3 separate regions of the Homo sapiens genome follow, and regions 2 and 3 are each reported to be linked to region 1. Evidence: microRNA targets listed by miRTarBase, many of them from high-throughput screens and not tested one by one. Region 1 holds a microRNA gene; each other region holds the end of a gene's coding sequence.

Evidence for each region. Region 1 holds the annotated microRNA hsa-miR-1255a (AGGAUGAGCAAAGAAAGUAGAUU, at 2,885-2,907, opposite strand). A microRNA usually pairs through its seed, bases 2 to 8, with sites in the 3' UTR of a target mRNA and lowers its output. Matches are read on the target gene's strand: a 7mer-m8 pairs with bases 2 to 8, a 7mer-A1 pairs with bases 2 to 7 and ends in A, and an 8mer does both.
Region 2: the mRNA of MPDU1 is a reported target of hsa-miR-1255a. Seed matches in the 3' UTR shown: 7mer-m8 at 3,508-3,514.
Region 3: the mRNA of GPX7 is a reported target of hsa-miR-1255a. Seed matches in the 3' UTR shown: 7mer-m8 at 3,607-3,613.

What each region holds. Positions count from the first base shown.
Region 1 is chr4:101,327,481-101,331,711 of GRCh38, forward strand. It overlaps MIR1255A (microRNA 1255a), which reads right to left and starts at 2,934; the gene lies at 2,822-2,934. The region is part of intron 1 of PPP3CA (protein phosphatase 3 catalytic subunit alpha); the gene reads right to left.
Region 2 is chr17:7,587,006-7,591,151 of GRCh38, reverse strand. It overlaps MPDU1 (mannose-P-dolichol utilization defect 1), which reads right to left. Exons shown (of 7, transcript NM_004870.4): 5 at 4,135-4,146; 6 at 3,881-3,991; 7 at 2,940-3,726. The coding sequence ends at 3,601. It overlaps SOX15 (SRY-box transcription factor 15), which reads left to right and starts at 1,058. Exons shown (of 2, transcript NM_006942.2): 1 at 1,058-2,008; 2 at 2,606-2,974. The coding sequence starts at 1,476. The coding sequence ends at 2,774. RefSeq lists an enhancer at 1,340-1,914.
Region 3 is chr1:52,607,832-52,612,062 of GRCh38, reverse strand. GPX7 (glutathione peroxidase 7) reads right to left here. Exons shown (of 3, transcript NM_015696.5): 3 at 3,012-3,801. The coding sequence ends at 3,638. Among named protein-coding and RNA genes, the nearest start is that of GPX7, 7.6 kb to the right of the region's middle.

The DNA of each region.
Region 1 (4,231 bases):
CACATTTGTGGGAGAAAAAAAAAAAAGACAAACAAAAAATCCAAGCATGTTTCTTACATATTTTCTCACTTGGTTCCCATGTACTACCACTGGAATGTTTAATCACTGGTTATTTTACTTTGATATTCCTATTTGAATACAGACTTACCTGATATTTTTTCTATACTTATAACATTCAAATTAGCTGTATATGTATTATAAATGTTGGGCATAATGACAACTCAGCATCAATTTCCTTATAAAGTAGAGGTTATTTCAGGCTAGCTTCAGAACTGAAATAAACACACACAGCAGGAAAGTTGTAATGCATATTTTGTTTTTTCAGGCCATGAAAACCCTTACATTTCAATAAATATATATTAACAAAATGAGAACTGTCAACAAAACACTCTAGTTGTATGAACGTTACTCAAATTTTTCATCTACATGGTACTGGACACCTTTCATAAACAACAACCAAAAAAAATATATTTGAAGTTCAGGGTCCACAAAAATATCACCAGGGAAAAAAAGAAGAAAAAGAAAATATGAACCTAAGCTGATTCCAGCAGGAAGAAATTTTCCCACATGCAGAGGTATTCACCATGAAGCAAGAGATGGTAAGAGGCCTCCGTGTGAAATTGGAGCTCCCCGAATTTACAGACCCAGGAAATCAGGGCAGGGTGTTAAATCTTCTCTTACACCTAAACCTATGACCTGCAACTACCTCAACCACAGAATTTCTCAAAGTGAATCAAACAAGGTTCAGTTGGATTCAAAATGCGTTTATGAATCACAAGAACAAACAACTGTCTCCAATCACCTGCCTCAGGAGAAGCACTAAAATTCTCAATCACCATCTTTTCTTTCAAACAATTTAAGAATTGTATAACTAGGCTAACCCTAAACATTCATCATAGTACAAGAATAGTTAAAAGTAGTAAATGAAAAATTCTGATCTCAAAACAATTCACATTTGCATCTAAAATGTTACAATGAAACCACATAACTCCCTCCTCAAAATGTTTCATGTGACGTCTCCTTGAAGTGGCTTTCACTTTAGCTATGTGTGGCTTCCTTTATTTGCTTCAGCAACAAAAATATGAAAATGAATACAGGCATACCTCACTTATTGTGTTTTGCCTCACTGCACTTTGCAGGTATTACATTTTTTACAAATTGAAGATTTATAGCAATTCTGTCACAAGCAAGTCTAGCGGTGCCATTTTTCCATCAGCATGTGCTCACTTTGTGTCTCTTGTGACATTTTGGTAATTCTCACAATATTTCAAACTTTTTCATTATTATTGTATGTTATGGTAATCTGTGATCCATGGTTTTGTATGTTACTATTGTAATTGTTTTAAAGCACCTCATGTCACACCGATATAAGACAACAAATTTAACAAATAAATGTGTGTACTCTGACTGCTGTGCTGACCAGTCATTTACCCATCTCTCTCTGTCTCTCCTTGGGCCTCCCTACTCCCTGAGACAAAATAATATTGAAAATGAGGCTTATTAATAACCCTAAAATGGTCTCTAACTGTTCAAGTGAAAAGTTGCACATGTTTCACTTTAAATCAAAAGGTAGAAATGATTAAGTTTATCATGCAAGGCATATCAAAAGTGGAGACAGGCCCAAAGCTAGGCCTCTTGCGCCAAACATCCAAGTTGTGAATGCAAAGGAAAAGTTCTTCAAAGAAATTAAAGGTGCTACCTAGTGAACACACAAATGATAAGAAAGCTAAAGAGCCTAATGCCAATATAAGAAAAGTTTTTGTGGTCTGGATAGATCAAACCAATCACAAAATTCTCTTAAGCCAACACCTAATCAGCAGCCAAGACCCTAACTCTCTTCAATTCCATGAAGGCTGAGAGAGGTGAGGAAGCTGCAGAGAAAAAGTTGGAAATTAGCAGAAGTTGGTTCATGACATTTAAGGCAAAAAGCCATCTCCACAACATAAAAATGCAAAGTGAAGCAGCAAATTTTAATGTAGAAGCTACAGCAAGTTATCCAGGAGACCTTGCTTAAGATCATTAATGAAGGCGGCTACACTCAATAACAAATTTTCAATAGGGATGAAACAGCCTTCTATTGGAAGAAGATGCTGCCTAGGACTTTCACAGCTAGAGAGGGGAAGTGAACTCTTGGCTTCAAATTTCAAAGGACAGGCTGACTCTCTTTTTAGGGGTTAATGCAGCTGGTAACTTAAGTTGAGGCCCATGCTCATTTACCATTCTGAAAATCCTAAAGCCCTTAAGAATTATGCTAAATCTACTCTGCCTGTGCTCCGTAAGTGGAACAACAAAGCCTGGATAACAGCACATCTGTTTACAGCATTGTTATTGTTTGCTGAATATTTTAAGCTCTTGGCTGAGATTGAGATTTACTGCTCAGGGAAAAAAAAAAAATCCTTTCAAAATATTACTGCTCTTTGCAATGCACCTAGTCATCCAAGAGCTCTGATCTTGTACACAGCACCCATTCTGCAGTCCATGGATCAAGGAGTAATTTAAACTTTCAAATTGTACTATTTAAGAAATATATCTCATAAGACTGTCACTGCCATACATAGTGATTCCTCTAACAGATGTGGACAAAGTACATTGAAAACCTTCTGGAAAGGATTCACCATTCTAGATGCCATTAAGCACATTCATGATTAATGAAAGAGGTCAAAATATCCACATTAACAAGAGTTTGAAATAAACTGACTTTAAGGAATTTAAGCCTTCAGAGGAGGGAGTAACTGCATATGTGGTAGAAATATCAAGAGAACTAGAATTAAAAGTGAATCCTGAAGATAGGACTGACTTGGTGCAATCCCATGATAAAATTTTAATGGATAAGGAGTTGCTTCTCAAGGATGAGCAAAGAAGATAGTTTCTTTAGAATCTAAAAAATCTACTTTCTTTGCTCATCCTTGAGAAGCAACTCAAAGGATTTCCAATACTACATACATTTAGCTGATAAAGCAACAGCCACCCCAAGACACTGACAGTTCAGATGATCATTAGCACAACGGTTATGTATTTTTTAAGTGAAGTATGTACATTGCTTTTTTAAACATAATGCTATTGCACACTTAACAGACTACAGTATAGTGTAAACATAACTTTAACATGCATTGTGAAACCAAAAAATTTGTGTGACTAGCTTTCCTGTGATATTCGCTCTATTGTGGCAGTCTGGAATATCTCCAAACCGACAATATCTCCAAAATATGCCTGTATAAAGCCACAATATCTCTAAAATATGCCTGTATAAAAAGGCAACGTCTACAAAAAAAGGCTAACAGTGTACAATAACTAGCACTACACTTTTTTTTCATAGCCTTAACCTAGGGGAAAAACTTAAGGTCCAATTAAAATGACTTTTTTATGGATCTCATAGTTGGTACTTCTTTTTATGTTTTGGATCGTTTGTGTTATAACACCATAATAAGGTCAATAATGCCAAGAAAAGCATAATTTATGGTCCAGTCCCATTGTTGTGGGCCTCAACTACATATTTCTACAAAGAAGACAAAAATATCTGCCCCACGAAAAGTATTAGATTTTTCTCCCACAGAAAATGCCACAGATGTTCAGCCAAAATGATTTCCAGGAGCAATGATATTTTATATAAAAAGAAATCCCTAATAACAAGTATTTTCTATCAATTCACTGACACCATCTAATATATTTGGCCTCATCTTGCCCTGAAGTTAGTGTTATGGTGGTAAAAGCCCAGGATCTGAGTCACGACTTGGAGTCCAAATACCTGATCTACCACTTACTCACTAGGAAACTTTGCATAAGGTACTTAAAATGAGGTAATATACATGCAAGGCATGGATATTAATGTCATTAAAATTTTTAGAATAGAAGGGAGGACAGGAAGTACTTTGCTTCATTATTCTTGTATAATAAACAGAAATATCTTCCCCAGTCAATTTTTTTGTTGTAAAAAAACAAATGAAGAATAATGTGCCAGGCATTGCACTAAGCACTGGAGAGATCAACTGGATAAGACCCTGCCCCTCAGAGATTTCTCAGTTAATGAAGAAAAAATGTTGCCAACATTTGTGATCCATCGTGCGTACAACAGACAAGTAGCAGCACAGACAGCTGGTAAGGGTTTCAGAGAAGTTTCACACAGGAGAGACAGATTAAAAGTGTTCCATGCAGAGGTAAAGCAAATGAAAAGCATGGAAGGTGTGCTTCAGGTTTTTAAGTCCTTCAGCTCAATCAACTTTTATTATATGCC
Region 2 (4,146 bases), not on the chromosome of region 1:
CTTGTTTTCTGTTCCTCCACATCTGACTTCTCTTCATTGTCTCTTGTCCCAAAGATGGTCTTACTTCTGGGAATTCCTGACATTCCTAAACTCCCCAGGCCCAGGTTCTCCCTCCTGGTTCAGAGGAGGGGGGCTTGTGCCTTGTTGCTTCTCCCCTCCCCCAAGTTTGCTGGTAGAGGGAGTTGGGCCACTCCTATACCCTGAGTCACAGCACAGGCTAGGCAGGGCTGCTCAGAGCTGGAGCTGTTCCTGTAGAAGCTGAGAGCCAAGGCAGGCTGCTTAATCCGATTACCTGAGGCCTGGGGCTTGGGCTGGGCCGTTGGGCAGAGTGGGGAGCAGGGTTCCCTCACAGCAGCCTCTGGAGCCCGGGGTCCGGCCTTCTTGGTGGTGTTCTGTTCTGGCTCCAGGCTTTTTCTCCGGCATGCGCATCACAGACCTCTTAACTTGGGGAGTTGTCCTGGGTTTCCTGGCTCCCCCCTCATGACTTGGACGACTGAAGCTAAAACTTGCCATAATTCAATAGCAGTGGAGAAATATAGGTTTAGGGACTGGAGTTGGGAGGGCTTAAGTTTTCTCACTTGGGAAAGGGGTTGAATCACGGCCCAAGCACCTGCTGGAATGACTCAGGAAACAAAAATGGTCTCCCTCCTCGGCCTTTCTTGCCCCAGGGGCAGTTCTGGGATTTGAGGAGCAACAGGCACCAGGAAAGGGGTTGGGGTGGTGGTCCGGGATGCTCCCAAGCTCCTCTCAGCACAACTCGGGCCCTGAGGGCACTTCATCCCCCTGTGTTTGATCCCATTGTGGAAAGAATTGGCTTTAAATTGCCTGTGCTTCAGGGAGGGGAGGCAATCAGCAACGGGCTGGAAGGCCTGACATCAGGTCTTGGGTGGGGGGGGCGGGGGGCGTGGCACCCTGAGGGTGTTGGGGGCTGGGACAAACAGGACACCTGGGTTTACCTACGGGCTGAGGATGTTGGCGCCCTTAAGGAGGTGCAGTCTTATGGGAGGGACAGGGGCGGAGTCAGTCTTTAAAAGCTGTTCCCAGGTCTGGCCCGCCTGCCACAAACGCTGAGCCCAGGTGGGAGAGGTCTGGCCTATCCGCGCCTGGCAGCTGTCGGAACTCCGGAGACCACAAAGGGGTTTATGGTTTACCCCCTCCACGGAAGGTCGGTCTGATCGCAGCTGCGGGTCGGGGAGAGGGACCGGGGGTCCCCCAGTCAGTAGGCCTCAGAACACCTCTTCAGTGCCGGGGCACCAGACAGCGGATTTTGCATTCGACTCTCCCCAAAGTGTGCCGAACAGGTTGGAAGCAAAGGCTCCGGTTTAAGCTCTGGGCTTGGGGATAAAATACACTTTTTAAGGACCCAAGTTCCTCGGCAACGACTCCAGACTGGGAAGACCTTTCCATTTTCAGGATCGACGCTTCACGTTGAGGGGAGGGCATTCAGGACGCCCTCTTAAGGCTTCTCCCAACCCATGGCGCTACCAGGCTCCTCACAGGACCAGGCCTGGAGCCTGGAGCCTCCGGCTGCCACGGCTGCTGCCTCCTCATCTTCGGGACCCCAGGAGCGGGAGGGCGCTGGGAGCCCCGCGGCCCCCGGGACGCTGCCCCTGGAGAAGGTGAAGCGGCCGATGAACGCGTTCATGGTGTGGAGCTCCGCTCAGCGCCGCCAGATGGCGCAGCAGAACCCCAAGATGCACAACTCCGAGATCTCCAAGCGCCTGGGCGCGCAGTGGAAGCTGCTGGACGAGGACGAGAAGCGGCCCTTCGTGGAGGAGGCCAAGCGGCTCCGCGCCCGACACCTGCGCGACTACCCCGACTACAAGTACCGGCCTCGGCGCAAGGCCAAGAGCTCGGGCGCCGGACCTTCCCGCTGCGGACAGGGAAGAGGCAACCTGGCCAGCGGCGGCCCGCTCTGGGGGCCGGGGTACGCGACCACCCAACCGAGCAGAGGCTTTGGGTACAGACCCCCCAGCTACTCGACAGCCTACCTGCCTGGCAGCTATGGGTGAGTGCCTGGGAAGCGGGCCGAAGACGGAGGCCCATGCGCCCCTCTTCTGGAGCCTTGGTGGGGGCGGATGCCGGAGGACGGGAGCCCACCCAAGCAGAGGCCACTCGCGGCCAAGGTGTGGCGGGCGCAGGCCCAGTACCTCCGGGGCCTGTGTAGGGTGGGGCGGATCAGGGTTCTCCCAGAGGGCGTTTCCATCTCAGTCTGAAGGTGGTGGGCCCTGTAGGGTCAGGTGACTGACCCCTGGATGCGACTGTGTCCTAGTTAGATGCCCCGTTTCCCCCCTGCTTCTGGCCTGTGTGTGACCCAGCTTCCTCTCCCAGCCCCCAGGGCAAGGAGAGGCCGAGCTCATTCTGCCCTTTCCTGGCCTGACTCCCCAAGAGGAAAACAGCCGTGCAGCACGCAAGCCCGCTCCCGAGCGTGCCCCAACAGGGCCGCGGGCTCTCCATCCCGGGGTCGGCTTCCATGCCTGCTGCGCCCAGCGGGCTGGGTAGCCAGGGCTGGGTGGGTGGCACGCTCTACCCTGTCTGCCCAGAACTGGCCAGACTCACCTCCAACCCAGGGAAGTGCCCTCTAACCTCTTGTTTCTCTCTGCAGCTCTTCCCACTGCAAACTGGAAGCCCCCTCACCGTGCTCCCTCCCTCAGAGTGACCCTAGGCTCCAGGGGGAACTGCTGCCCACCTATACCCACTACCTGCCCCCTGGCTCTCCCACTCCATACAACCCTCCCCTTGCTGGTGCCCCCATGCCCCTAACCCACCTCTAACCCTCATGGACGCAGACCTCACGGGACGGGCCTCATCCTCCTTTTTTAATCCAGCAGCATCCCCTACCCCAGGCTGTCAACCCTTTCTCCTGTTGGACTACAGTTCAGAGGCAGCCTGCAGTCCTCCCATGATAGCCAGGGAGAGCCGCACAACATACAATTATATTTTTGGTAGTATTAAACAGTTTTGTATTATTCAACTGAGTCTCCAGTCTTTATTGTCCCATCTGTTCCCCTCACTGCAGCAGGAACCAGCCCCATCTCCACTCCCTTCCGCCTAGACCTGCCAGAGCAGGAACCTCCTCACCCCACCCTGGGGCCCTGCCTGAGTCATTCTCCGTCCCCCTTCCCCCACCCCAGCACTGGGGTCCGGGAGACAGTCCCAGCCGGGCTGAGGGAGGGAGGCAGCCACAGCCTCCCAGTCCCTCCACTCTGCCGTCCAGACTCAGTCTTCCAGGGCCAGAAGGGAAGCAGGGAGGCTGGAGGACAGGGTAAAACATTTGCCCAGGATAGTGTTACACAGCTGGAAATTGCTGCTAGAGGAGGAGGCTTGGCTGAATGACTGAATTAATAGTACATGTACAGGGCTTACGAAAGCACTCAAATGTCAAAATTTTGGCTTGGGAGACTCTACCCCCATCCTCTCCTTTTCTAAGGATCTGGATCCATCAACCATTTGTTTCCACTAAAAGAAAACCCTGGCTCAGAAAGTCTGCAAGTGCAGAGGAATGGAGGATGAGTAAGTCACACCAGCAGGCTGGCTCAGATGGGGAGAACCCTGAGGTTGGGTGAATGAGTGGAAACGGAATGACTCCAGTAGCTGGCTCTACTGCGCCTTTTTCTGCTTGTGGGGAGGCTTTGCATTCCAGTAGAAGAGCAGCTGGGCGGCGATGAGGCCGTTGCAGAGAGAGGAGACCACAAAGGTCCCAGCCATCAGGGGATCTCCGGTTTCCTGGTTGCAAGAGACAGAGCCAGGGTTACCCTTCAGCATAGCTCAAGAAAGGTTCCCTTATGGACAAAGGTTCCTCACGGGGCAGCTTTGGCCCTTAGCTGGGAGAAGTAAGACGAGGTTTTAGTGCCTTCTAGAAGGAAGATGTTGCACTCACCTGAATGGAAGTGAAGATTCGGGCCAGGGAGCCCCCAAACAGCAGGAAGACTGTGATGGCTGAGAGCTGGCCTGTGTGCCCGTTGTGGTAGTTGGTGGCTGCCTGGAGAAGCTAGGGGAGGAGTTGAGACCTTTGGCTCTGTCACCTGAGCTCTTCCCATGCTCCCCCAAGTACAACACCCCCACACTTTGATCTTCTACTCTTCCCCCCCACCCTGCCCCCACAACATCTTGTCCCTTGCTCCTGGTACCCACCCTCCCCACCAC
Region 3 (4,231 bases), not on the chromosome of region 1:
TGCATGCACACAAGTACATGCAGAGCTGCAGCTAAGAGGAGGGTGTGTAAGGGCAGCTGAGAGGCCACCATAGGAGGGGCTGTGGTCACCCCATGGACAGCCTTCACTTTACTTTTGTTAGCTTTTGAGAAGCACCATGAAGGGAGACTGTGAAAATCCTAAGCACGGTTTAACCCTTTCATTGTCCAGTGAGAAAACGGAGGACAGGAGAGAGGGAAGAATTTGCTGTGAGTCAGGGGCACAACAGGAACTTGAATCTGAGTCTCCAGACTTCTAGAAGAGTGACCTTAGATAAAGTACACCTGAAATTCTTATTGGCCAATGAATTATCTACCAGTGACTCTGCCCATCACCCCATTTTTTTTATAGTATTTTGGTCTGTTGCTCAGGTTGGAGTGCAGTGGCGTGATCATAGCTCACTGCAGCCTCAAACTCCCAGGCTCCAGTGACTCTCCTCACTCAGCCTCCTGAGTAGCTGGGACTATAGGTGTGCACCATCACACCTGGCTAATTTTTTGATTTTTTGTAGAGATGAAGTCTCACTGTGTTTCCCAGGCTGCACCCCAATTTTTAGCCACCTTTCCACATTTATATAAAGGTGAAATATGGATTTGACATACAAAATTCAAACATTACAGAAACTTAATGAAAATGACTCCTGTTATCCTACCTCAGCCCCTCGCAGACAACCACCATTAAGAGTTTGGTCTATATTTTTCCCTCTCTCTTTCCCTCCCACTTAACATTGTAAATTTTTTAAAAATTTGGGACAGGGTCCACTCCCATTGCCCAGGCTGGAGTACAGTGGCGCAAACACGGCTCACTGCAGCCTCAACCTCCTGGGCTCAAACAATCCTCCTGCCTCAGCCTCCTGAGTAGCTGGGACTACAGGTGTGAGTGACCACGCCTGGCTAATTTTTAAATTTTTTTGCAGAGACACGGTCTTGCCATGTTGCCCAGACTGGTCTTGAACTCCTGGGCTCAAGCAATCCTCCCACCTCTGCCTCCCAAAGTGCTGGGATTACAGGCGTGAGCCACCTAATGCACCCAGCAACATTGTACATTTTTAATAAAAACATTACACTTGTTCATACTGGTTTTTCTGGGTATGTGAATGTGTTCATTCTGTTTTACAACTTATCATTTTTTCACTTTTGGACAACTTTCTATGGTAGCATATGGAGACTTCATTCATTCATTTTAATAACCATATTAGTTTATAATTTGAGGCAAGGTCTCCTCTGTCACCCAGGCTGAGTGCAGTGGCATGGTTACGGTTCGCTGCAGCCTTGACCTCCCAGGCTCTAGCAATTCTCTCACCTCAGCCTCCTGATAGCTGGGACTACAGGCATGCACTGCCATGGCCAGCTAATATTTTTTTGTAGAGGTGGGGTCCCACTATGTTGCATGGTGGCGTGTGCCTGCAGTCCTAGTTACTCAGGAGGCTAAGGATGCAGTAAGCTACGATCGAGCCACTCTTCTTCAGCCTGGGCAACAGAGTGTGACCCTGTCTCAAAACAAAAAGCAAAAACAAAAGGTATGAGCATTTTGTTTTAAAAGATATTGCCAAATCACCCTCCAAACACTTGTGCCAGTTTATCGTACCACAGTTTATGTGAATGCCCATTTCCTCACATCCCTGCCAACCAGGGGTATTATCATTAAAAAAATATCTTTCGGCCGGGAATAGTGGCTCACGCCTGTAATCCCAGCACTTTGGGAGGCCGAGGCGGGCGGATCACTGGGTCAGGAGATTGAGACCATCCTGGCTAACATGATGAAACCCCGCCTCTACTAAAAATACAAAAAAAAAAAAATTAGCTGAGCGTGGTGGTGGGCGCCTGTAGTCCCAGCTACTCGGGAGGCTGAGGCAGAATGGCGTGAACTTGGGAGGCAGAGCTTGCAGTGAGCCGAGACTGTGCCACTGCACTCCAGCCTGGGTGACAGAGCTAGACTCCATCACAAAAACAAAACAAACAAACAAAAAACTTTCCAACTTCAATGAGGCTGGACATCTTTTTGTATCCTTATTACGCATCTATAGTCTTCCGTGAACTATCTATTCATCTCCTTTGCCTATTTGTTATTGAGGTGTACTTTTGGCTAGTGGATTACTCAGTGAATTTTTTTTTTTTTTGAGACAGAGTCTCTCTCTGCTGCCCAGGCTAGAATGCAGTGGCGTTATCTCCGCTCACAGCAACCTCTGCCTCCCGGATTCAAGCGATTCTCCTGCCTCAGCCTCCAGAGTAGCTGGGATTACAGGCACCTGCCATCATGCCCGACTAATTTTTATATTTTTGTAGAGACGGGGTTTCACCATGTTGGCCAGGCTGGTCTCAAACTCCTGACCTCAGGTGATCCACCCGCCTCAGCCTCCCAAAGTGCTGGGATTACAGGCATGAGCCACTGTGCCCGGTCATGCCAGGCTAATTTTTGTATTTTTATTTTTTTATTTTTATTATTATTATTATTATTGAGACGGAGTCTTGCTCTGTCGCCCAGGCTAGAGTGCACAGGCTGGAGTGCAGTGGCACGATCTCTGCTCACTGCAAGCTCCGCCTCCCGGGTTCACACCATTCTCCTGCCTCAGCCTCCAGAGTAGCTGGGACTACAAGCGCCCGCCACCACGCCCGGCTAATTTTTTGTATTTTTAGTAGAGACGGGGTTTCACCGTATTAGCGAGGTTGGTCTCGATCTCCTGACCTCGTGATCCGCCCGCCTTGGCCTCCCAAAGTGCTGGGATTACAAGCGTGAGCCACCGCGCCCAGCCTAATTTTTGTATTTTTAGTAGAGATGGGTTTTCACCATGTTGGCCAGGCTGGTCTCAAACTCTTGACCTCAGGTGATCCACCTACGTTGGCCTCCCAAAGTGCTGGGATGACAGGCGTGAGCTACCGTGCCCGGTCACTGAGTTCTTATTGGGCAATAATGATTGGCTTAACCAAAGGCCTGGCAGCCTTTGTACCAAACTGCTAACACTGTTTACCTCTAGGGAGGGAGACTATGGAAAATGAGGAGGATACTTTCATTTTTATTTTATATCGTGAGGTATTGTTTGGATTGTTACAATGAACTTGCATTTCTTTTGTAATGAAGAAAATAATACAGAGGAAATAACAACAACTAAACCTTTGGCCTGGATTATCATCGGCTGGAAATTCATGTTGGATGCAAGTTTTTATTGATAACAAGTTATTTTTTGGTTTATATGCAAAAAATGTTCATTGAATGCCTCCTATTTGGCTGGCACTGCCTAGGCACTTTCACAGGTATTTCATCCTAATCCTCACAACAGCCCTATGAGGTAATCATTGGTCCCAGTTTACAGAAGCCTTGGGTGGGAGATTATTGCTTGATATACTTCTATTTGCCACACATTTTTGTTGGCAAGACGTTCGTATCGGCTGGTGATTCACTGGTCAAGAGCTCTCATTGGCCAGGAGTTCCTATTTGTTGCTGTAAGATTCAAATAATCAAAATACTAGAATTTTTCCCCCACAAGAATGATGGGACCAATGGCATAAGAGTAAAGGAAGGAGAGTCAGTGGGTCTCTCCCTTTGAAGCACCATTTGAGTTTGCATTGGTCAGCCCCACACAGGTGGGCGGGATGAGGTGGTGGAGGAGGAGACGCGGTGGTTATAAGTCTTCTCGCTTCAGTAGGATGAGCTTCCTCACGAGCGCTGTGATCTGGGGTCTGACCTCCTCCACTGACACAGTTGGGTCCCAAGCCCCTACCACCTTTCCATCTGGGGCTACTAGGTACTTCCAGAAGTTCCAGGTGGGCTCCTTCCCAGAAGTCTCTAGAGAAAAAGGAAGGAGAGCAAAGCGTGCTACCCTGCGTACCCTCTCCTGGGACTTCACTCTCAGTGTCCATCTTTCCCTGGTGGCAGCTAATCCTGATGCCCAGTCCACACCCCAGACCACTCCAACCAGAATCTCTGAGGGTGAGGCTCAGGCATCAGCATTTTTCAAAAGCCCCCTGGGAGATTCCAAAGTGGGGCCGAGGTTGAGAACGACTGCTGTAGGATTCTGTGACGTGCTTGATAAAGTGGTATCAAATCCTCCTTTATTAATGACTTCGAACTACTGAATAGTCTACACCCTATTCTCTAGTTCAGTTTTAATGGTTTCCAAATGTTAGTCCATGGACTGGTTTCATCAGAATCACTGGGGGTCAGGGGAGTGCTTAAAATAAAGATTCTTGGGCCCTGCTTCAGTAGGTCTCAGCCT